2 separate regions of the Homo sapiens genome follow, and region 1 is linked to region 2. Evidence: fine-mapped expression QTL. Tissue or cell type: subcutaneous fat. Region 2 holds a variant in brackets; the other region holds the start of a gene. All regions are shown on one strand. Distances are from middle to middle.

What was found. PIP is the estimated chance that this variant, and not a neighbour inherited with it, causes the effect.
Region 1: WIPF3 starts here. The variant in region 2 is fine-mapped to the expression of WIPF3 in subcutaneous fat (GTEx, PIP above 0.99).

The regions. Positions count from the first base shown.
Region 1 is chr7:29,799,950-29,810,944 of GRCh38, reverse strand. WIPF3 (WAS/WASL interacting protein family member 3) reads right to left here and starts at 4,437. Exons shown (of 9, transcript NM_001080529.3): 1 at 4,267-4,437. RefSeq lists an enhancer at 3,792-4,701.
Region 2 is chr7:29,706,342-29,717,336 of GRCh38, reverse strand. It overlaps the pseudogene DPY19L2P3. Among named protein-coding and RNA genes, the nearest start is that of MIR550A3HG, 27 kb to the right of the region's middle. The variant C/A (reference allele first, on the strand shown) is at 4,973.

The DNA of each region.
Region 1 (10,995 bases), 94 kb before region 2:
TGCACTCCAGCTTGGGCAACAGAGCAAGACCCTATCAAAAAACAAAAAAACAGAATAAATCTATCTTATTAGCCTTAAACATGAGATAAATACTATTATTATCCTCATTTTCTAGATGAGAAAACCAAAACACAGAGAGGTTAAGTAATTTGTCCAAGATCATACAGCAAATAAATGATGCATGTAAGATTCATGCAAAATAGTCCAGGGATTCTGACTTACATAAGTTATACAAAAGAATAAATAATTTCTTAAAGAAGCAGAGGCTTTTTGATTTTATAGGCTGAGCCCTAAAGGAGATAACTATTGGAAATCTCATCCATACAGTTATGCCTGATGGAGCCATATTAACAAAAGGGAATGAGACAGTGAAAGTTAAAACAACAGATAAAACACAACAAATAATTGTCTTTTGATCTTGGAACATACTTCCAGATATTCATTCATTCATTCATTCATTCATTCATTCACTCACACAATTACTGATTCCTCCACTTACACAGTCCTTTAATTCATTCAACAACCTTTAGGGAGTACCCCTCACTTGCCAGGCATGGGGCAGGTGCTATGCTGGGAATGGAGATGAACACAGTTCCTGCCTTCCAGGAGCTCAGGTGCAATAAGAGAGAGTCAGGTAGGTTGGGGACACCTTGGGGTTATGAGTGGGTTGATAAAAGACCACAGCAGGGTGCAACATGATCATTCTGAGAGTAAGTCAGCCTTCGGCTTCTGTCTCCCCTTTGATAAAGGAGTATGAAGAATCAGCTCCCTATAGGGCTGCTGTAGTGATGTCCTACATATAAAGCTCTTAGCCTAGCCCCGGGCAGGGCTAGCTAGTCATTAGCTCTTAAGGAACAGTGGATGGCAACCTGGGCACCTTGCTCAGACACACATGTGCACTCACACAGACACACGTCCTCAGAAACTCAAGCACTGAGACTGGCTACTGCCTCCTCCTAGCTAACCAAGAGCTGACTCTCACAGTCCATGTGCAGGCCTGGCACTCTCTCCTGGATGCCACCATCCTAGATGCGGTGTTAGCTGGAAAACACCACCCACATAGGATGAACATTCCTTCAAGATGCACTTGAAAATCTTCCTCCACAGTGCCTGGCCCACATAATGCCCGCTGGGCATTTTTGTCACGTTTACTCTGCTTTAGTTTACCTCCTTGGCACTTGAACACCGCAGTTCACTACACAATTCCCCTGCTGCATAATGGTCGGGTTCCCTCTTGAACAGGTCTAAGGAAAGACGCAGCTAGAATTGCAAAAGGGGAGTTTCAAGTGCCCTACTGGCTGAAGCCAGTGAGAAAACACGTGTGCTGCCCCTGCCCAGCATCGGCTGGGGAAAGGCATGCCTCTTCGGTTTTGTACAGTGGCTAAATAAAAAGCAATTAATCACTTTCTCACCAACCCTAACTCATATTTAATAGTTCCCCTCGAAGTTTGTTTTGTCATGCTGTCGGCAAAGTCAGTCAAACATTACGATTCTTTTCTAAATATTCCAGCAGCCAGATGGCAGAAGCACCACTGTGACAAGGCAAACTTGCCTAAAGATAACTTTGTGATGCAGAACCATGCTCGATGGCACTGGGCTGAGGGGACTCACCCAGAGCTATTTCTAAATTGCTCCCCTTAACCCACGTTCTTTACACCAAAACTTCCTAAGACAAACATTCAACTCTGCAACTTGAAACTGGTGGTAAAACAAAGACGTTTCTACCTCTTTAAGTTCGGAATATTAGGCAGAAAAATAAAATCACTAGAAGACCACACATCAGGACAAAGTTCTCAGGATTTCTCCGTAGATTTAAGGCTACTGTACCCTAATGTTTCAAATATTTCTGCACCAAAGTTCATATATATTAAATATTTATAACACATTTGCTAGAAAACACATTTCCTTCCTTTTGCTGAGTTATTTGTGTAGGTTTCTTTTTTAAAAACTTCAACATTAATAAACATATTTATAAATTCTAGAATGTAAAAAAGTTGACTGCCATCCTGGTGAAAATTCTATGTTTCCCTCTACTGTTAATCACATTTTGTTTTCTCGGATCTTTCCTAGGTTATATTCTTTATTCTTTGTGTATGTGTTGGAGTGACTGCAAACTCGCAACCTGTACTATATGGTTTCTGAACAATAAGTCTCCTAAAAAGAGCGTTGCCAGGCTAGACCAGCTGGCTTTCCCCTGTTCTTATAACTGTATGTTCTTAGACACACACACACACACACACACACACACACACACTTCCTCCATTCCTTCTGCTGCTGGGTAACTGCAATCTGTGACACAATGTCACACTCACAATTACGTGAAAACAGAGACTCCTAAAGGAACAAAAAGGGGGCAATGGCAGGAAGCCAGCCTACAAGTGTCTGTCACCCTGACCGCTCTGCCCCGATTCAGGTGGCCACAAATTGCCTGTTGAAGGTTGCCTGTCTAGAATTTGAAGTCTGTGTGCCCAGGCTGTTACCCTGAGTAAGTAATTTAACCTCTGTGACCTTTTATTTTCTCATCTGTAAAAAAGGCACAATAACAATATCTCTGTTAAAGAATTGCTGCGAATCACAGGAGGTGATGCACATAAAGGCATCTGCAGTGTATGTTTCATTTCCAGTTACTTCTTAACTTTCTTTTGCCCCTCCTCGCCACTTCTTTTCTGATTTGGTTTTTGTGGTTTTTAAATGTATCTTTGAAATGCATTAGCTGGAAAACTGCAGCAATCTGTGTGTTACCACAATGAGTGGACTTTAGCATCACATTTTTATTTACTTTTTCACTGAGGTAGAATTTACGTTAAGTGCACAAGTCTCAAGGGTATAACTTCAGTAATTCTTAGGTCAAGGTGAGAAGCATTTCTAGCATCCCAGAAGCCTCCCTCATGTCCTGTCCAGGTATTGACCTGGAGTTTATCTCCTTGCAAGGCCCAAAAACAACCTCTCCTCTGACCTCTTTCGTAATGATAAAGTTAAAAAAAATTGAAGGGAGGCAGGAGTCCCAGTGATAACTATTAATGCTGGGCACAAGAAGTGCACTCCCAGTCCTCCCTGTGAAGTGAGAAAAGATTCTGGAAAGGAGGAGGCGGAGGGGCACAAACCTTCTAAATCACACTGGTCATGCCAAACAAGGCCCTCATTTACAGCCAAGGACCCCAGGCACAGAGGCGAAGAGACAGCCTAACTTCCTGCTACAGAGTAACTTTCCTCCCCAATACAGCCAGTTACAAAGCGCCCTGAGTGTCAGGGATTGGCCACACTGTCCCAGGGCGCATGGAACCGCTCTCCTGGCCTTTCCCTGCAGAAACTTCTTTCCAGAGGGAGGCGCACACACGGTCCCCACGCCGCCCCGGCGCCCGCCACGGGCACACCCACGCGGCTGGCACGCCACCCTCCAAAGGCGCTGTTCCTGAGAGCCGGTGCCTGCCTGCCCACGGGGCCCGGGCGGCGCTCCTCCAGGTCCAGGGCGGCCGGGTGCCCGCCCTCCCCGCCACCTTCAGAGAGTGCGTGTCAGGGGCTGGGGGAAATCTGCTCTGCCACCTACCTACCCACCACCTAATCCTCCAAAGGACCCTAAACCCATTTGTGGCCAAATGTACATTGCTGGAGCACAGTCTGACTACTGACCCCAGGGGCTTGGAGATGAGCACGGGAGGGGTGTCCAGAGACCTGCGCTCTGTCCCCATGAGCTGTGTGACCTTGGACAAGTCACTTCACATCTCTGGAGTTGGCTTCCTCACTAGGGGGCTCCTTCTGTATTCCCCAAGCCACCTCCGGCTCTGCAATTTCCTAGCTCTCTTTTACTCCGCCCCAGCCCTTCCCGCGACAGCCCCCTCCCCAGCGAGACCCCAGCCTTTTGTTCCGGGGGCGAAGCGGAGAAGAGAGAGCGTCGCGAAGGACCAGGCCGAGGCGGCCTCGGTGCCAGGGGCTGCTCACCGGGGAGTCCAGTCCGGAGAAGTCACCAAGCAACCCCGTGGTGACCTCGCTCCCCACCCCGCGGTTTGTTTCCGCCCGGCCCGGCCCGGCCCGGCCGGGGCGGCGTGGCAGGGTGCGGGTGGGGGGCGTGAGCGCCGCGCGGCACGTCGACAACCTCCTGGGCCCGGGGCTGCAGCCCGGCGGGGGTTCCCCGGCCCTCCCACGCCCTCAGGATCTCTGTCCCGGGCCGGGCCACTCTGCTCCGGGACCGACCAGGGCGGCGGCCGCCACACCGCCCGTTCCTTCCACCCTCGGGCACCGACCCGCACCCGCGCGGGAAGCCGCTACCTGCAGGTGGCGGAGCCGGGGGCTGGACTGGACTCGAGCTCCGGCCGACGTCTCCGCCGCCGCCGCCTCCGGCTCCGGGCTCCGTCCCGCAGCGCCCGTGCTCCAAGCGGCGCCGCTACCGCCGAGCTGCGCTCGGTGCGCCCGGCTCGCTCCCCGGCCACCGGCTCTGGTGCTGCCGGGACGCGGAGGCGGGGCCGCCGCCCCCACCTGCTCGCAGGCTCCTGCCTGGGAGCCGCCGCCGCCCCGCGGCAGGGACACGGCCCCGGCGGGCGGGGTCGCTCTGGGACCCTGGAGGCGGGTCCCAAGTCGGCGGGCGCGCCTCCCGGGTACAGAGTCCCAAGTCTCAGCTGCGGAGAGACTGAGGCCTAAGGCTGGAATTCCCCAAATAGGAGCTGTTGCGCGGGCGGCACACGGCCCAGCACAGCTACTCTGGGGACACGCCACTCCTTGAATTTATTCCAAAATGTTGAGCCCTTACTAAGCTCCAGGCGGTGTCATAAGCGATGGGGACGAGAGAACAAGATTACCTCTTGCCCTCGTGGAGTTCACAGTCTAGAAAAGGAAAGCGACCAATGGGCGATTACAGCACAACCAAGAGGAGGCAGAGGCCTCCTGAGCCGGCTCCCAGAGGGAGCACCTGATCTAAACTTGGGGTGGGGAGTAGGTCAGGGAGGGCTTCTTGAGGAGCTGACGTCGACGAGAAAAACTGAAGACTGAGTGTGAATTAGCCAGGTGATGAGAGAATTATCCGGGTAGCCTGGGGAGGTAGATTGATGTCCCAGGTAGAGTCGAAGGGAGGAGAAAGCAGACTGAAAACTGAAATAGGGCCGGGCGCGGTGGCTCAAGCCTGGAATCCAAGGACTTTGGGAGGCCGAGGTGGACGGATCACTTGAGGTCAGGAGTTACTAGCCTGGCCAACATGGTGAAGCCCTGTCTCTACCAAAAAATACAAAAGTTAGCCGGGTGTGGTGGCGCTCTCTAGTCCTAGCTACTCGGGAGGCTGAGGTGGAAGGATCTCTTGAACCCAGGAGGCAAAAGTTGCAATGAACCACTGCACTCCAGCCTGGGCGATAGAGTGAGACCCTGTCTCAAAAAACCAAACCAAACCAAACAAAGAAACAAACAAAAACAAACCTGAAATAAGCTTGAAGAACGGAAAACCTTGCTTCTGTCACATTTCTTGTTCAGGCCCTTGGAGGATGCAGAAAGTTTGTGTCCGAGGCTGAATGCATTGCTGTAGGTGCTGAGATCATTGGGTGAGGATTCTGTATTGCCCATGTCCTGGGCATTCCTGCTAGTGGAGGAGCTAAGCGGGTACTCGTGGACTGTTCACTCAGCCTCGGTGTTTGAGTATCTGCCATGAGCCAGACACTCTGCAGGGCCTCAGGGCAAGGTGTCTAACTCTAAAGTTGCTGCTGGTCTGGAATAGAGGAGAAACCTGGCGCTCAGCGCTGTGCTGAGGCTTGTGTGAAATGTTGGGGACCCAGGTGAGGGAGCAGCCAATGCCAGCAGGGAAGATCTCACACGTGGATTGCAGCCTGTATTCAGGTTCAAGTTCTGTAGTGGCTGCTGTCAAAGTATGTTCCCCAAGCAGCCCTTAGCTGATCTCTTAATTACTCATGTTTGTAGCTGGGCAATGTGTCGAAAGCAAGGATTAATAATACACTTTTGATGTCTTTCACTCCAGTGTCGTCAAGAACATGGTTTTCTCTTTTGATTTAGGTGACGAAAGGTCTATGTGTAGTGAGTGGAAGCTGATGAGGCACTTGCTTTCCACCTGTTTGTCCTGAGTTCCTCTTGCCCTTTCCTCCTTTAGAATCATAATAGATGACCACAGGTATGGAACCTGAAGAACAGTTCTCCAACATAAAATTCATAAGCCCTCTTACATGGGTGATTGTTACTAAAACAAAAACAAAACCCAAAACCCCAAAACATGACCCAGCCACTCTCCTTCTCTGGACCTCCAGTGCTAAAGCTCACTAAATACATAACCACTAGTATTCTAATTCAAAAAGGAAGAAAAGTCAAACTATTAGAGAAGACATTGCCATGGGCCTAGAGAGTTCCCATCAGATCTCCTGAGCAGCCCAAGCATGAGCCAGTTGGATGGAAAGCCTGTTATTTATCTCAAGAGATGCTGGATTGGATCAAAGAATTTGTTTTTTAAAATGCCTGGTTGTAGGGATGGGGAGGTGGTGAGTGAGGAATCAATTTGGACATTTGGGGCTGAAAGCTTCAAGAGGCATTCCATTCAGGTGATCAGTGTTTTCTATCCATGTGAAGTAACAATACCATTAGCATCTTGTTCCTACGGACATTAGGGAGGGATTCATTTCCACCTAGCTCCACTAAGACAAATTGACTTCAAGAAGGCACTAGCTCTTCCTAGTAGATGGTACTTGTTCAGTGGCAGACACTGTGAATTGTCTTCCCAATTATCAGTCTATTCTCCACTTCTTCCTTAGTGACAGAACCCAGGATTATGATTGATCCAAGACGACCATGACAATCCCCTTCCTGATTTCCCAGTCTTTCTTACAGCTAAGGAAGTCATTGACCCAGTTCTAGCCAATGAGTTGAAAGAAGGGTCTGGTGGGGGAGCCTCTGAAAAATTTTTTCTGGTTCTGTCTTTCCTTTTCCCTCTTTTCTTTTTTCTTTTTTTTTTTTTAGACAGAGTTTTGCTCTTGCTGCCCAGGCTGGAGTACAATGGCACCATCTTGGCCCGCTGCAACCTCCGCCTACGGGGTTCAAGAGATTCTCCTGCCTCAGCCTCCTGAGTAGCTGGGATTACAGGCGCTTGCCACCATGCCCAGGTAATTTTTGTATTTTTAGTAGAGGCGGGGTTTCACCATGTTGGCCAGGCTGGTCTCGAACTCCTGACCTCAGGTGATCTGCCCACCTTGGCTTCCCAAAGTGTTGGGATTATAGGCGTGAGCCACCGCGCCCAGCCCATTTCCCACTTTCTTTATGATTTGAATGCAAATGAAATGCCTAGTAATGCTACAACCAGATTGCAATCAAGAGCCAAAGACTGTGAGGCCAAAAGGTCAATATAATTGGGACAACACACTGGGAAATAGAGTCAGTGTGGTATCACTGCGCACTTGAGCCAAAGTGTGCAACTGTCCACCTCTGGATGGACTATATCCTATGTGAGAAAAATAACCCATGTTTGTTTCAGCCTCTGAGAATTCGTTTTCTAATTTTGCAGCCAAATGTATTCCTAACTTATACTATGACCTGGTAAAGAGCAAAAACCTCCTCTTTTCTTCTCTTCACTCACCAAGTGTCTGCAATAGCTCACCTTTCACACCTTCCACTTGCAAACATATATTTATATCTGTTCTGTAACTTCTTGAGCTCTTCAGGAGAAAGGCACTCCAGAAATATTAAGTGTTTTGTACACATGTGCTCACTTCAATCTCTCAAATATGTACAGATCAGCTATTTTCTGGTGATACTGCACTGGTGCTAGGGGTGCAAAGATGAATTCACAGCCCTGCCCCCCAGGAAGCCAACAGCTTAGTAGAGAACACAGCTTGTGAAGAGAATATTGCAATTTTGGGTAGGAGAGGAGCTTGTGCTGTAGAGAGAGCTGATACAGGAGAAGAAATGATGAACTATCTGTAGAAAAGGAGGGAGCCTGCAAGACCTGAGTTGGGCATCCATTAATGAATGGAGTTTCTCCTGTCAGAAAGTGGGGAAGGGAGGGCATTTCAGGGAAAAGAAAGTCTGAAAGAGCTTGGTGGTTTAGGAGCCTCAAATGCTACAGGTCTGGAACCACACTTCAGGTCTTCCTTCCAAACCTGACCCACTCTGTTGCCCATCCCCCAATGCCCCCCACCCCCCGCCATCTAGTTGGACCACCCAGAAATTTTGTAAAGCTACTTTTCCCCCATCAACCCTCCTTGAGGTTGAGCCTGTTGAATCTGTCCAATTTTGCCCATCTGTACCACCAGCTGAGACTAGAGCCCATCATCACCTCTCTCCAGGACTTTCCCAGGAACCTGTTAGCTTTTCCCTCTGTAATCATATGCCACTTCTCTCTTCTAAAGCATTCTCCCCAGTGTGGCCGGGGAGAGCGTCTTGAAACCCAAAGCTGATCTTATCAATTCACATTATCTGTAGTTCAATGAATTCTCATTGCTCTGATGATAAAACCAAGATCCCGAGCTTTGTCTGAAGGCCCTCATGACCTGGCCTGACCCACTCTCCAACGCACCTTTCTCAGTCCTCCCCTCCATCTCTGTCCTCCAGCCATGTTGCCCTGCTTTCAGATCCTTTGACAGCAATATTCCTTCGTGTCACAGGCTTTTTGAATGTGCTCTTCCCTCTTTGTGAAGAAGACCCCAAGTGTCAACTCCTCTCCATCTTTCAGATCTCAACTAAACCTTGCCACAACTTATCTGAATCTCAGCTAGGTCACCCTCTTCTATAAGCTCTCAAAACCTCATGTACCTTTCTTTTGTGCATTTATTACAGTTGTATGATGACAATATCTGTTTAATGATGTAACATTTGTCCTCCAGGCTAGACTGTGGTATTCATGACCTCAGGAACCATCTCTGTCACCTTTGTATCCTTATCTCACAGCACAGAGGCTAGCACATAGTAGGTACTCAATACACATTTGTTGAGTTCTGAAAGAAATGAATAAATTAGGGTTGGGGACTGGAGCTACATATCTGAGGGTTTGTAACGTTTCTCAAAAAAAGTTTATATCAACTTTACTAAGGGATAATGTCATACAATAAAACGCACTCCTTTTAAGTGAACAGTTTAATGAATGCTGACAAATGTTTACTCTGATATAACCACCACCTTTATCAAGGTATAGACTATTCCATCTCCAAGAAAGTTATCTTATCCCCCTTTGCAGTCAGTCCCTATGCCCAGCCCCATGCAACTGAAATGAGAGAGCTCCCTGACCCCCTTGTGGGATGTGAGGCAGGGGTGTGGCTCATTTGTTTGGCCACTGCACACTCAAACTTCTTATGGGATGGGGAGCAGATGGGCAGGTGCAGGAGCCAGGGCAAGTGCTTTTGGGCTCTGGGCCCATAGTAGCATCTAGGGGTGGATGCCTGTGACTCCTAAAGCCCCAGTGGGCATATTACAGTGCTCTTTTAGCTCTGCTGTCTGCAGATGGCCTAAGTGTTAACCAGCTCAGTACCCTCTTGGTACCCAGGTTTTTGCCCAGCATCCAGGAAGAATCAGGTCACATGGACAAATTGAGGGACAGTAAATGTGGGGGATTTTATTGCTGGATGGGAGTGGCTCTTGGTGGGATGGATGGAGCTGGAAAGGGAATGGAGTGTGAAGATGATCAACCATGGAGTTTGGCCGTCCTGCAGCCGATCTCCTCTCCGACCGTCCCCAGCTGAACTCCTCTCGATGGTCAGACCCTCCTCTTATCTCCTTTGCTGCTCTGCTCTGCCGCTCTTTTGCTCCTCTGCTCTTTTGCTCATGGGGTTTGGGGTTTATATGGGTACAGGATAGAATGATGTGGCAGGCCAGAAGGCAACATTTGGGCACAAAACCAGGAATGTCTATTCCCATTTAGGGCCGCAGGTTTCCAGGCTTGAGGGTGGGGCCTTTGCTGGGGAACTGCCCTCTTTTATCCAGTACCTCCCTGCCTCCTGTCAGTATCACAACCACGGAGCTATTACTGTGGATTAGTTTTGTCTTTTCTGGAGCTTTGTGTACTAGAATCATACATGAAGAACTATTTTGTCCTGACTTCTTTCACTCAGCCTATGTGATTCACCCATGAGTTATGTGTTATATGTAGTTTATTCCTTTTTACTGCTGATTGGTATTTCATTGTATGGATATGCCAGTATTTGTTTAATCCATTTACCTTTTGGTGGACACTTAGTTTGTTTCTAGTTTTTTTTGATATTACAAATGAAGGTGCTTTGAATATTTGTGTACAAGTCCTTTTGCAGATAAATGCTTTTATTTCTCCATGGTAAATACTTAGGAATATAGTTTTAAGAATCATTAACATTTAAAACAAAGATAAAACCTTAGAACCACACTGAGATACTACTTCACACCCACTAAGATGGCCATAATTTTTGAAAGTGTTGGCAAGAATGTGGAGAAGTTGGAATCCTCATACATTACTGGGGAGAATATAAAATGGTACAGCTGCTGTGGAAAATAGTTTGGCAGTTCCTCAAAAAGTTAAACATAGAACTTCCATAGGACCCAGAAATTCCACTCCTAGGCATGTACCCAAAAGATTTGAACACAGGAATTTAAATAAAAACTTGTATATGAATGTTCATAGTAACACTACTCGTAATAGCCAAAAGATGAACACAATCCAAATTTCCATCAACAGGTGACTGGATAAACAAAATGGGATATATCCATACAATGGAATATTATTCAGCAATGAAAAAAATGAAGTACTGATACATGCCACAGCATGGATGAACCTTGAAAATATGCTAACTGAAAGAAACAGACACAAAAGACCACATATTATGTAATTCTATGTATATGAAATATACAGAATAGGGAAATTCATAGAGACAGAAAGCAGATTGGTGGTTGCCAGGGGTTGGGGAAAGAAAAGTGGGGAGGGATTGCTTAATGGCTACAGGATTTCTATTGAGGGGGATAAGAATGTTCTGGAACTAGGTAATGGCTATATTTGCACAAAGTTGTGAATGTATGCAATGCCACTGAACTGTACAGTTAAACATGGTTTAAAGATTA
Region 2 (10,995 bases):
TTGTTGTTGTTTATTTTTTGACTAGCCTTGATTAAAAAGGGAACAATTGTGTACTTCTGGTTAGCCTGGGGAAAGTTAAGCAACCTAAATTCAAATCTCTGCATATATCAACCAACAAGTAGAACAATACAATCACATATATGGATAAAAGGTAACAGCACAAACTTCAAATTACCTATGAATCGAAAAGGAAGCAACGAATCTATAGAGTTATACCTCAAGTCCCTGACCTATGCCTTTGCATAGAATGAGGGGAGACCCATAAAAGGATAAAGAAGAAAAGGAAAGACAGGGGTCAAAATTGGAACTAAAATAACCCAAGAAAGAGACAAGTCTATCATATGTGTAAAAAGAGCCCTGGGAGATTGGTAAATGGGAGTACAGAGCAGGGCCTAACAGTGAGTAGAGACAAAAACACTGATGTTAGAAAGGCATCATTTCTGGAAAGAAAGGAGGATAAAAAGGGGAGTGCAAGAAGGAAAAAGTATCCAGCAGGAAAAATGAGAACCCAAACCAAAAGACTATCCATCACTACTGCCATCAAGCACAAAAAAAGAAAAAAGTTATTCATTGAAAAAAAATCACACTATGCTACATTTTCAGAAGAGGTTTGCACTTGGACTAGAAAACACAAAATAATTAATAGATGAAAAAATGCCTATATAAATATCCAAAGCTTCTTTAAGAAGATAACAAACATGAAAGTCAAATATTTCAGCTAATGAAATCCACACCACTGAACGATAAAATCTCACAAAGCAAAAGAAAATTATGCAGAATTAAAAGTTGAATTAAATATCCTCAAACGAGCATTCAGAAATATTAAAAAAGCAATTTAAACAAGAAATTCAAAAACCAAGAACAGAAATGGGGAAAAAATCAGAAAGAAATAAAGAGTTTATTAGACACAGAAAGGGAATGAAAGAAAAGGAGAATATTATCAAAAATAAAAACGAAATCACAAGATGATTAAAAGAAAAGAAATTCAAATAAGTTAATGAAGGAATTGAAGTAAAGGCACTAAAACAATGATGAAGAATGAAAATGTTACCAGAGAAAGAAGTGAGAAGTATCAGAGAAAGTGGTAGAAATGGAAGAAAGGCACATAATTATAACTGGAGTGCCTGAAAAAAAAAAACACCACAGCAATGAATCAAAACTAGTGTTTAAATTATAATCCAAGAAAACTTTCCAGAAATAAAAGAAGACCTGAATAGGGATTTGGAAAGGATCCAGGGGGTACTGGAAAAAAATTAATCTGGTATGGTAAACTAACTCAAGACATCTTTCAGTAGAACTATGAAAAATGAAGAAAAATTTCTCAGAGCCTCCAGGCACAAAAGTCACATAATTTATAAGGGACAGAAGAATTTGGCTAGCATCAGACTTGTTAAAAGAAACATACAAACCAAAGCAGTGGTGTAGACGCATTTTTAAGAAACTTTAAAAAGTGAGAACCAAGGATTTTATATCTAGCCAATCTGTCATTCAAGTATAGATGTTATAAAAAAGGTTTCAAATATGCAATAATTGAGGAAATAATAGTAACCTTCTTAAATACAAAAAGTTTTAAAGAGAATCATATACAGGAACAAAGCAAATATAGTCAAATACACATAAAACTTACAACAAAGGTTTTCACATTATCTCACAAAGCAAAGACAGACTCAACTTATGCTACACAGGGAAGACAAATAAAAACAGATTCAGAAAGGTGAAAAATAGAATGATGGCAGCAAGCATGGCAGGCAAATACCATTTCCATATGGAAACTAAGGAAGACATTTAAAGCAAGCATAAGAAGCAAATTCATGGCCTCAAAAGCTTTATCAATAAAAATGAAAGAGTGAAAATAAATGAATTAAATCCTTGACTTAAAAATCTAAATAAAGAATAACGAAATAAAGTGAAAAAAGTACACAAAGGGAAATACTCATGAGAAGAATAGTCTACTATATTAACCCCTCTGTGTATCTGTTTTGCTGTTTTATATTTCTTCCCTATATTCTAGGATTCTTTCTTTCATTTCCTTTTTGTTTTCAGAAGTTTTTAAATTTTAAGTTCAGGCGTACATGTGCAGGATGTGCATGTTTGTTACATAGGTAAACGTGTGTCATGGTGGTTTCCTGCACCTATCAACCCATTACCTAGGTATTAAGCCCAGCATGCATTAGCTATTTTTCCTGATGCTCTCCCTCCCCACACCCTCCCCTGACAAGCCCCATTGTGTGTTGTTCCCCTCCCTGTGTCCATCTGTTCTCACTGTTCAGCTCCCACTTATAAGTGAGAGCATGTAGTGTTTGGTTTTCTGTTCCTGCATTAGTTTGCTGAGGATAATGGCTTCCAGCTCCATCCATGTCCCTGCCAAGGACATGATCTCATTTCTTTTATGACTGCATAATATTCCATGGTGTATATGTACCACATTTTCTTTATCCAGTCTATCATTCATGGGCATTTGGGTTGATTCCACACTATCAAAAAAGAGCTCATATAGCCAAGACAATCCTGAGCAAAAAGAACAAAGCTGGAGGCCTCAGGCTACCTGACTTCAAACCATATTACAAGGCTACAATAACCAAAACAGCATGCTCCTGGTACAAAAACAGGCACATAGACCAATGGAACAGAATAGAGAATTCAGAAATAAAACCACATATCTACAACCATCTGGTCTTCAACAAACCTGACAAAAGAACTTCAGTTAACCATTCTTTAAGGTTCTCTGCTAGCCACAAACTATCTTAATTTTCCTTGATTGGAGAATGTCTATTTCCCCTTCATTCCTAAAGGAAACATCCACTGGATATGTAATTCATCTTGACAAATGTTCTGCCACAACCTTCTGGCTTCCTTACTTTCACATGAGAAGTCTGCTACAATTTAAGTCAGTTTTGCCCTGTAGGTGATGTGTCATTTCTCCATACCTGCTTTCAAGATTTTTTCTTTTAGTTTTAAAAGTTAACTCATAATGTATCTTGGCATGGATTTCTCTGGGTTTGTCTTACTTGGGAATGGCTCAGGGTCTTCACTCTGCAGGTGTGTCTTTCACCAAATTTAGGATGTTTTTAGCAATTACTTCTTAAAATACTATTCAGCCCCACTCTCTTTTTCCACTCCTTCTGAAATTTTGATGATACAAATATTAGATCTTTTGATACTACACCATAGGTCCCGGAGGCTCTGTCCTTTTTCCTATGATTTTCTCTCAATTTAGATTGGGAAATTTCTATTGTTCTATCTTCAAGAGCACTGACTGCTTCCTCGGTAATATTCACTCCACTACCAAGTCCATTTACTGAATTTTAATTTCAGTTATTGTATTTTTCAGTTCTGTAATCACCAAGTTGTTCTTTAAAAAAAAAAAGACAATTCTTTGGTGACATTTTATAGCCTTTTCATTTGCTTCCAGAGTATTTAAAACTGCTCATTGAAGTGTTTTTATGATGACTGCTTTAAAACCCTTGTCAAATAATCCCCACATCCTATTCATCTCAGTGTTGACATCTGTTGATTGTCTTTTCTCATTCAAGTTGTTATTTTCTCCATTCTTGCTATGATGAGTGGTTTTTCTATTGTGTCCAGTACATTTTTTATATTATGTTAGAGACTGTGGATCCTATTTTAAATTTCTATTTCAGCAGACAGTCACTTTGTTTTTAGGTTTATCATGCAAGTCCTGGCCTACTTCTGTGTGCTATAGTTACAATGACAGTTTAGTTTTCAGAGTCTTTGCAGTGCTAGTGCTATTCTGGTCAGCTTGATTCATCTGGTGCCCTTGTGGTCCATCTCTGCCCCAAATCATGCTGCCGATGCAGGAAGAATGTACTTCCCATGTCCTGTTGCCATGAGGTGGAGGGTGAGAGACACCAGGATTGTGGGGTAGGAGGTCGGCAGAGAGCAGAGGGCTCTTTCCTGGGCTGCCTAGTCCTGGCAGGGCACCTGTTAGATCCCCGCTGCTGCTACCTGCATGGGCAGCCTCCCTGGAGGAAATAGTAGATACCAGACCCACAGCATGGAGAGTATTTCCCCGGACCCTCTTTCTGAGTGTCTTCTGCCACTGGATGGAGTTTCAGGAGATGGCAGCCTGTGGTTTTCTGTGAGTTCTGAGGTACCTAACTAGTCTGCCTTTCTATAGCATTGGGCTGGGATTGGAGCTACAGTTATGAAATCATGATTTCATACACACACACACGTGTGCACATACGTGCAGTGAAAGGGCCTAGAAACAAGGACACACTGGTAGTAATGAGTGCACATACCACTCAGGTCTTGGTTTCCAAATACCATTCTCCTCTAAAAGGAACCAGGGCTCCTTGGAAAAAATGGCTGATTCCAAGGCTAGCACGAGGAAAATCAAGAAAAGCCTGGAGCATTATAAATTTATAAAGACATGTCAAAGAGACATCCAGCTTAGGAACATTCAAAACGGCTAGGCCTGGAACTGATATTTGTGTATAACATATGGTTTTTCTCATATAGATAGACTATTCCAGCATCATTTAGTGAAAAGTGACCTGCAAGACAATCTTGCTGAAATTGCTTTGAATCTGAACATCAGCTGGGGAGAACTGCATTACATGAAACTTCATACACATAAATGTGTTTTATTTTTCTATTTGTCTTAGAATTATTAAAATAAATTTTCATACAAATACTATATGTATTTTGTTAGATTCATTCAGATTCTATGCATTTTTCTTCCTAATACATAAGGCATATTTTTAAAAAATGTTTTCTGTTTGTTGCCAAAGAATAGAAATGCAATTGATTTTTGAATATTAAACTTATATCTAGCCATGGTATTGAATTCTTCTAATTCCTAATAATTTGTCAATTATTTTATTCTTTCTAGGTAAATACTGATACTATAATAAATTTTCCTTCTGTTTCTTTCCTTTTCCTATTATTTACTTTTCTTGAATTACTAGGCTAGTTTGGACTTTAATAAAACGTGAAAAAGCACATTTAT[C/A]TTTATCTTGATTTTAAACAGAACACTCTAAATACTTTATTATAGGTAAGACTAATGACTGCTGAATAATTTTACAGGGTTGAGAAAACTGTTATTTCTACTGTGTTACATGTTTTCATTACAAATGGGTGTTCAATTTTATCAATTTTATTTTCTGCATCTAATGGGATGATCATAAGATTTTTTCTCTTTTAATCTGTTAGTGTGATAACTTACATTTTTTGATTTTCCAGAAATGTCTTTGGATTCCTAGAATAAGCCAGATGTATCACAAGTGGATTATCTGTATCACATATATGGCTGTTCTTGAGTTACTAATCTTTTATATTTTGTGTGTAAGGAATGTTTTTAATCTAGGTGAAATTTTGAATCTATGCTCACAAGTAAGAATATCCTTTCTCAAACTATCCTTATCTGGCCTTAGTACTGAGCTTTAGATTATCTTGGAGGTTCCATCTCCCTTCTTGTAATGATTCTTATGCCTCATGGCACACACAAAGTTCCCCTTTGTAAATTTCATACGCGCTCAATTCGATAATTATCTTGCCACCAAAAACTGGAGTCTCCCATTAAACAGTGAATTTGCTTCTATTGATGTTAAACTCTAAAATGAATCACTTAGCTCTAAAAATACCTTGTTCAGGTTGTGTGTAATAAATACTTACCTTTGCCAAAGATATACAGAGCTAAAAACAGAAAATAATACCTAGGGGGCTTAAAAAACATGTAAGCTGAACATTTGGTTAAATCTCAACTTTTCTCTCCTTAGATTTTTTGTTTCTTTGATATTCTTGAATTTAAAACTTACTCAATTCATGTTCTTTCCAGTCTACTACTGAAAATATTGTTGAAAATGAAGACAGTAAATTTTCCTTTGAGTGCAGCCTTGGCAGAATTTTTTTGATGTTTATGGACACCTTCTGTTTACTGTCATTTTTCAATAGTTTGCAAATGAAATTCTGAACTTCTTTTGAGTTGAATTATTAAATTGCTCAATTTTTCTGAAGTGAAAGAATTATATATTACAAGTGTAATGTCGACATGTGAATTTCTACAAAGTCTGCATGCCTAAGGACAGGTGGCCTGGGTAAAGAGTCAAATTGGTAGAACCAATAAAGAATAACAAAAAGACAAAAAAAGCATCATGTCATTCATTCAACAACTTAGTGGACATATCTTTCTATATTTTCACCACCTAAAGGATGGGAGAATGCCTCCAACAAGGAGAAAATAGCAACTCCTTCCATTTTGTTCTCTTGTATTGTGGGTAGGAACCTACCTCCTCAACTTGTAACATTTCCAGACTTATCCTCTCAATATATAACATGAAAACATACAGTTCATTTCTTCTGTCACCTAGGGTGGAGTGCAGCGGGGTGATCATGGCTCACTGTAACCTTCCTGGGCTCAAGCGATCCTCCCACCTCAGCCTCCTGAGTAGTTGGGATCACAGGCTCATGCCACCATGCCCAACTAGTTTTTCTATTTTTTGTAGAGACAGGGTTTTGCCATGTTGCCCAGGCTGGTCTCAAACTCCTGGGCTGAAGCCCTCTGTCCATGTTGGCCTCCCAAAGTGCTGTGATTACAGGCGTGAACCACTGTGTGTGGCCCAGGGTTTATTTTTTAATAGAAGTACATCACAGACCAGAGAAAAAGAATATCATCTGTCTCATATTAAGAGAATTTAAGAGTTGCACTACCTGCCTAATAACTTATATTACTAGGAAACCATGGAGGTAATACGGGCCATCCATCTGCATATTTGGGAAGAAGCCAAACAAAGATTAGGTAGTGGCTGAGTTCAAATTAGAAGGGGCTGGGAGACTGCAAGGAAAATGTTAAAAGGACAAAAGTAATAGAGTCTAAAGTTGGAAGCAGAAGGAAAGAGAGATAGACGATGGATAGATGCAGAGGAAAGAAAAGGAGAAAAGTGGAAAGAAACTACAAACCTGAGTTATGTTGAAGGAAAGTTTAACTGAAGCTAAAGAGAGAAACTCAAGACATACAAATTTTAAAAAGCAAGACTGTATGGATATAGCAGAATGAAACATAGAGGAAAAGTGGTCTGAAAGTTAGTTGTGAAATACGTGAGCTAACTTCTTGAAAATGATTTCTAGTCTTTGCTAAGGACTATTTCCTTACATATCTATCTACCTTAGATAGTAGCTATTTTTAAGACAGTAGCTATTTATTAAATATGTCATTAGCATTTTAAAGCATATTAACTGTGTTTAGTTTGTAGAAATAAAAAGTAGAATTTAAATAAACTGCATTAAAAACACTGAATCTTACCCAAAAGTTGAGTTCAGATACTCCCAGTTTTTAAATTTTATTTCCTTTAGAATTATTGCCTAAAATGCACATAAGGGAAAATGAAACAATTCAATTCAATTAACATTTATATTTTATATAAATGGTACATTCCAAAAATTACATAGTCACCCTGTTCCATCTCAGCTATCACCAGCCATTTTCCTCCTTAACTGTTTATTTTTCAAATTCTGGACATGGCAAATTTCCTTGAGGTAAGAGTTAAATGGTTTATGTGTCAAAAAGCTGCCTCTTGAATCAAGTTATTTCCTCACTTAGACAACCTGGCCATTTTCTGCAGGATAATTCCTCTACAAAGGTAAATGGTATGTGAGCAGATGAGAGCATCCATGCAAGTCTGTATGTGAGTTATCCAGCAACATTAGTGAACTAAACTAACATGTAAATCCTTCCTCTCCAAACTGCCAAATAAAATATTTAAACATGTTTAAAAAATGTATACTCATGTGAAAGAGAAGGAACTTCTGATGCTAGAAAAAAGATGAATTTTTAAAAATACAATATTCATTAGCAGAGAGCCACCACCCCTGGCAGTCTTTATAAGTGCCTGTAGAATAAGGTCACAACTATAGGCTTGTATTGTAAAGGGAGGGCAGCAGAAGAGGCCTTGGGTCTATGCAAGGTAAGAAGTTGGAATTGAGACTAATACATAAAGCTAGGGTCCTCAAAAACTATACCTGCAGTGCTATGGACTTGAGTATTTGTGTCCACCTCAAATTCATAGACTGAATCTTTAATCCCCAGTCTGATGGTGTTTGGAGGGTGGGCCTCTGGGAAGTAATTGAGTCATGAGGGTGAAACCCTCATGAATGGGATTAGTGTGTCCATATTACAAGAGACTAGAGAGTTGAGGTCTCTCTCTACCATGTGAGGACACAGTAAAAAGGCTTCTGTCTGCAAACCACAAAAAGGGCTTTCACCAAGAACCAAATCAGCTGGGACCTTGATTTTGAACAGCTCAGCCTCCAGAACTGTGAGAAATAAATTCCTGTTGTTTAAGCCATCCTGTCTGTGGTACTTTTGTTATAACAGCCCAAACTGACTTAAGACACACAGTGACTAAGAATACTTCACCTACCATCTCTACAAGTTGATAGGTTATTTTTTTATTCCCAAGTTTGGGGTGAAAATAGTGCTCACATGAGAAACTGAATTCTTGGACTTGTATATTATTTAGACTTGGATTCGAATTTTGTATCATTTAGTTGGTGTAGAAATTCCCAAAGTGAGCCAGGATTACTAAACTTCCAATAGGAAAATATAAATGTATCAGATTATTCATTGCAACATTGTTTGTAAATGCAAAATTTAGGAAACAACCTAAATGCCCAGATATAGGAGAGTGACTAAATTACAGTAAATCCAAAGCAGAACACTAGGAAACTACCAGAAAGAATGAGGAAAATCTCTACGAACTGATATCCAGAATAGGTTGTTAAATGAAAAAAAAAGTGCAAAAGACTATCTTTAATACAAGAAGAGGAGATTTAAAAAATATACATGTAACAGTTATTAGTACTCAAAAAAGCCCAACTAAATGAGGTCAACCAGAAAACTAGTAAGATTTCTTACCTACAGGGAATAGGCAGTAACAGGGTGAAAAGAAAGGTGGAGAGAATGGGCTGGAAGGAATAGTGGGGAATATTTTCTGAGTATAATTTTATATATATATATATTTCTTGGGAATATTTTCTGAGTATAATTTATATATATATATATATATATATATATATATATATATATATATATATATATATATATATATATATTTCTTCCTCATTGAAACATGGTAATGTTTCACCCAAAGTAACTAAAATCAATCAGAATGAAACTTCAGCTTCTGTCCAAGTTTGTATAACAGAAACCACATTTACTTTCTCACCCTAAAAACCTAAAATACCAAGCCAAATAGATTATAGAGACAGCTATGAAGAATTATATGCCAACAAATTAGATAATTTATAAGAAATAAATTTCTAGAAACGTACAACCAACCAAGAGTAAATTATGAAAACACAAAAAAACTCAACAGACCTATAACTAATAAATCAGTAATAAAAATTTTCTCAACAAAAGAAAACCTCAAACCAGATGGCTTCACTGGAGAATTCTATGAAACATTTAAATAAGAATTCACACCAATCCTTCTCAAGCTCTTCCAAAAAACTGAAGAGAACACTTCTATACACATTTTATGAGGCCAGCATTACTCTGATACCAAATCCAGAAAAAGATACTACAAGAAAACTACAGGCCAGTATCTCTGATGAATATAGCAAAACAAAACAAATATTTCTATTAAAAATGAGCAAAGGACTTGAATAAACATTTCCCCAAAGAATAAATACAAATGTCCAACAGGTATTTAAAATGATGTTCAACATCACTTATCATCAGGGAAATGTAAATCAAAACCACAATGAGATACCACCTCAAACCTGTTAGGATGGCCATTATAAAACAAACCAAACCAAAACTAAACCAGAAGTAACAAGTCTTGGCAAAAATGTAGAAAAATTGGAATGCTTATGTACTGTTGGTGGGAATATAAAATAGTGCAGCCAAAGGGCACACCAGGTAGTCTACACAGAAGAGTTTGTTTCAGAGTGCAGCAATATTAGCCACAAACTAACCACTACTTTAATTCCAGCTAACAGATCTTAAAAGCAAGACCCGAAAAGATCAGCCTATGTTCAAGCAACTTAACTGCATCACAGAAAAAAGCTCAAGAGTATCTATAGGAATAAGAAAATATCCAGCAGCTAAGAAGGTAAAATTCACAAAGCCTGGCATCCAAGTAAACATTGCCAAGCGTGCAAACACTCAAGAAAACACAACCTCTATATGAGGAGAAGAAACAATTAATTGAAACTGACACAGATGACAGAATTAGCAGGGGGAGGCACTGGGGCAGTTACTGTAACTGTATTACACATGGTGAAGAAGTGGTAACAGAGAGAGAACAAGTTAACTAGAGACAAAAAATACTTCAAAGATACAAAATGAACTTTTAGATATGAAAACTACAATGACTTAAATGAGAAATACACTGGATGTGATTAACAACAGGTTAGATACTGCAGAAAAACAACCAGTGAACTCCTGAAGACACAGCAATAGTAACTATCCAAAATTAAATAAAGAACAAAAATAAACATAGGCTCCATGAACCACTGAACATTTTCAAACAGCCCAATATGCATTTAATGAGAGTCCCTAAATGAAAGTGAGGGGGGAGGCAGAAAAAATTTGAAGAAATAATAGCCAAAATTTTTCCAAATTTGATAAAAATTGTAAACCTAAAGATCTAATGATCTAGGATTCATTTCAATGAATCCTAAATACAAGAAACATGAAGAAAGCTATAGTAAGGCACATTATATAAACAAACTGCTCAAAATCAGTGGTAAACAGAAAATCTTATCTCTAGCTGGGAACAGCTAGAGAAGTAACATATTATTTACAGACAAAAGCATAGGGATGTCAACAGATTTCATAAGAAAAAAATGCAAACAAGACAAGTCAAGCAGCATCTTTTAAATTCTTTTTATTTTATTTTATTTTATTATTATTATACTTCAAGTTTTAGGGTAAATGTGCACAATGTGCAGGTTAGTTACATATGTATACATGTGCCATGCTGGTGTGCTGCACCCATTAACTCGTCATGTAGCATTAGGTATATCTCCTAA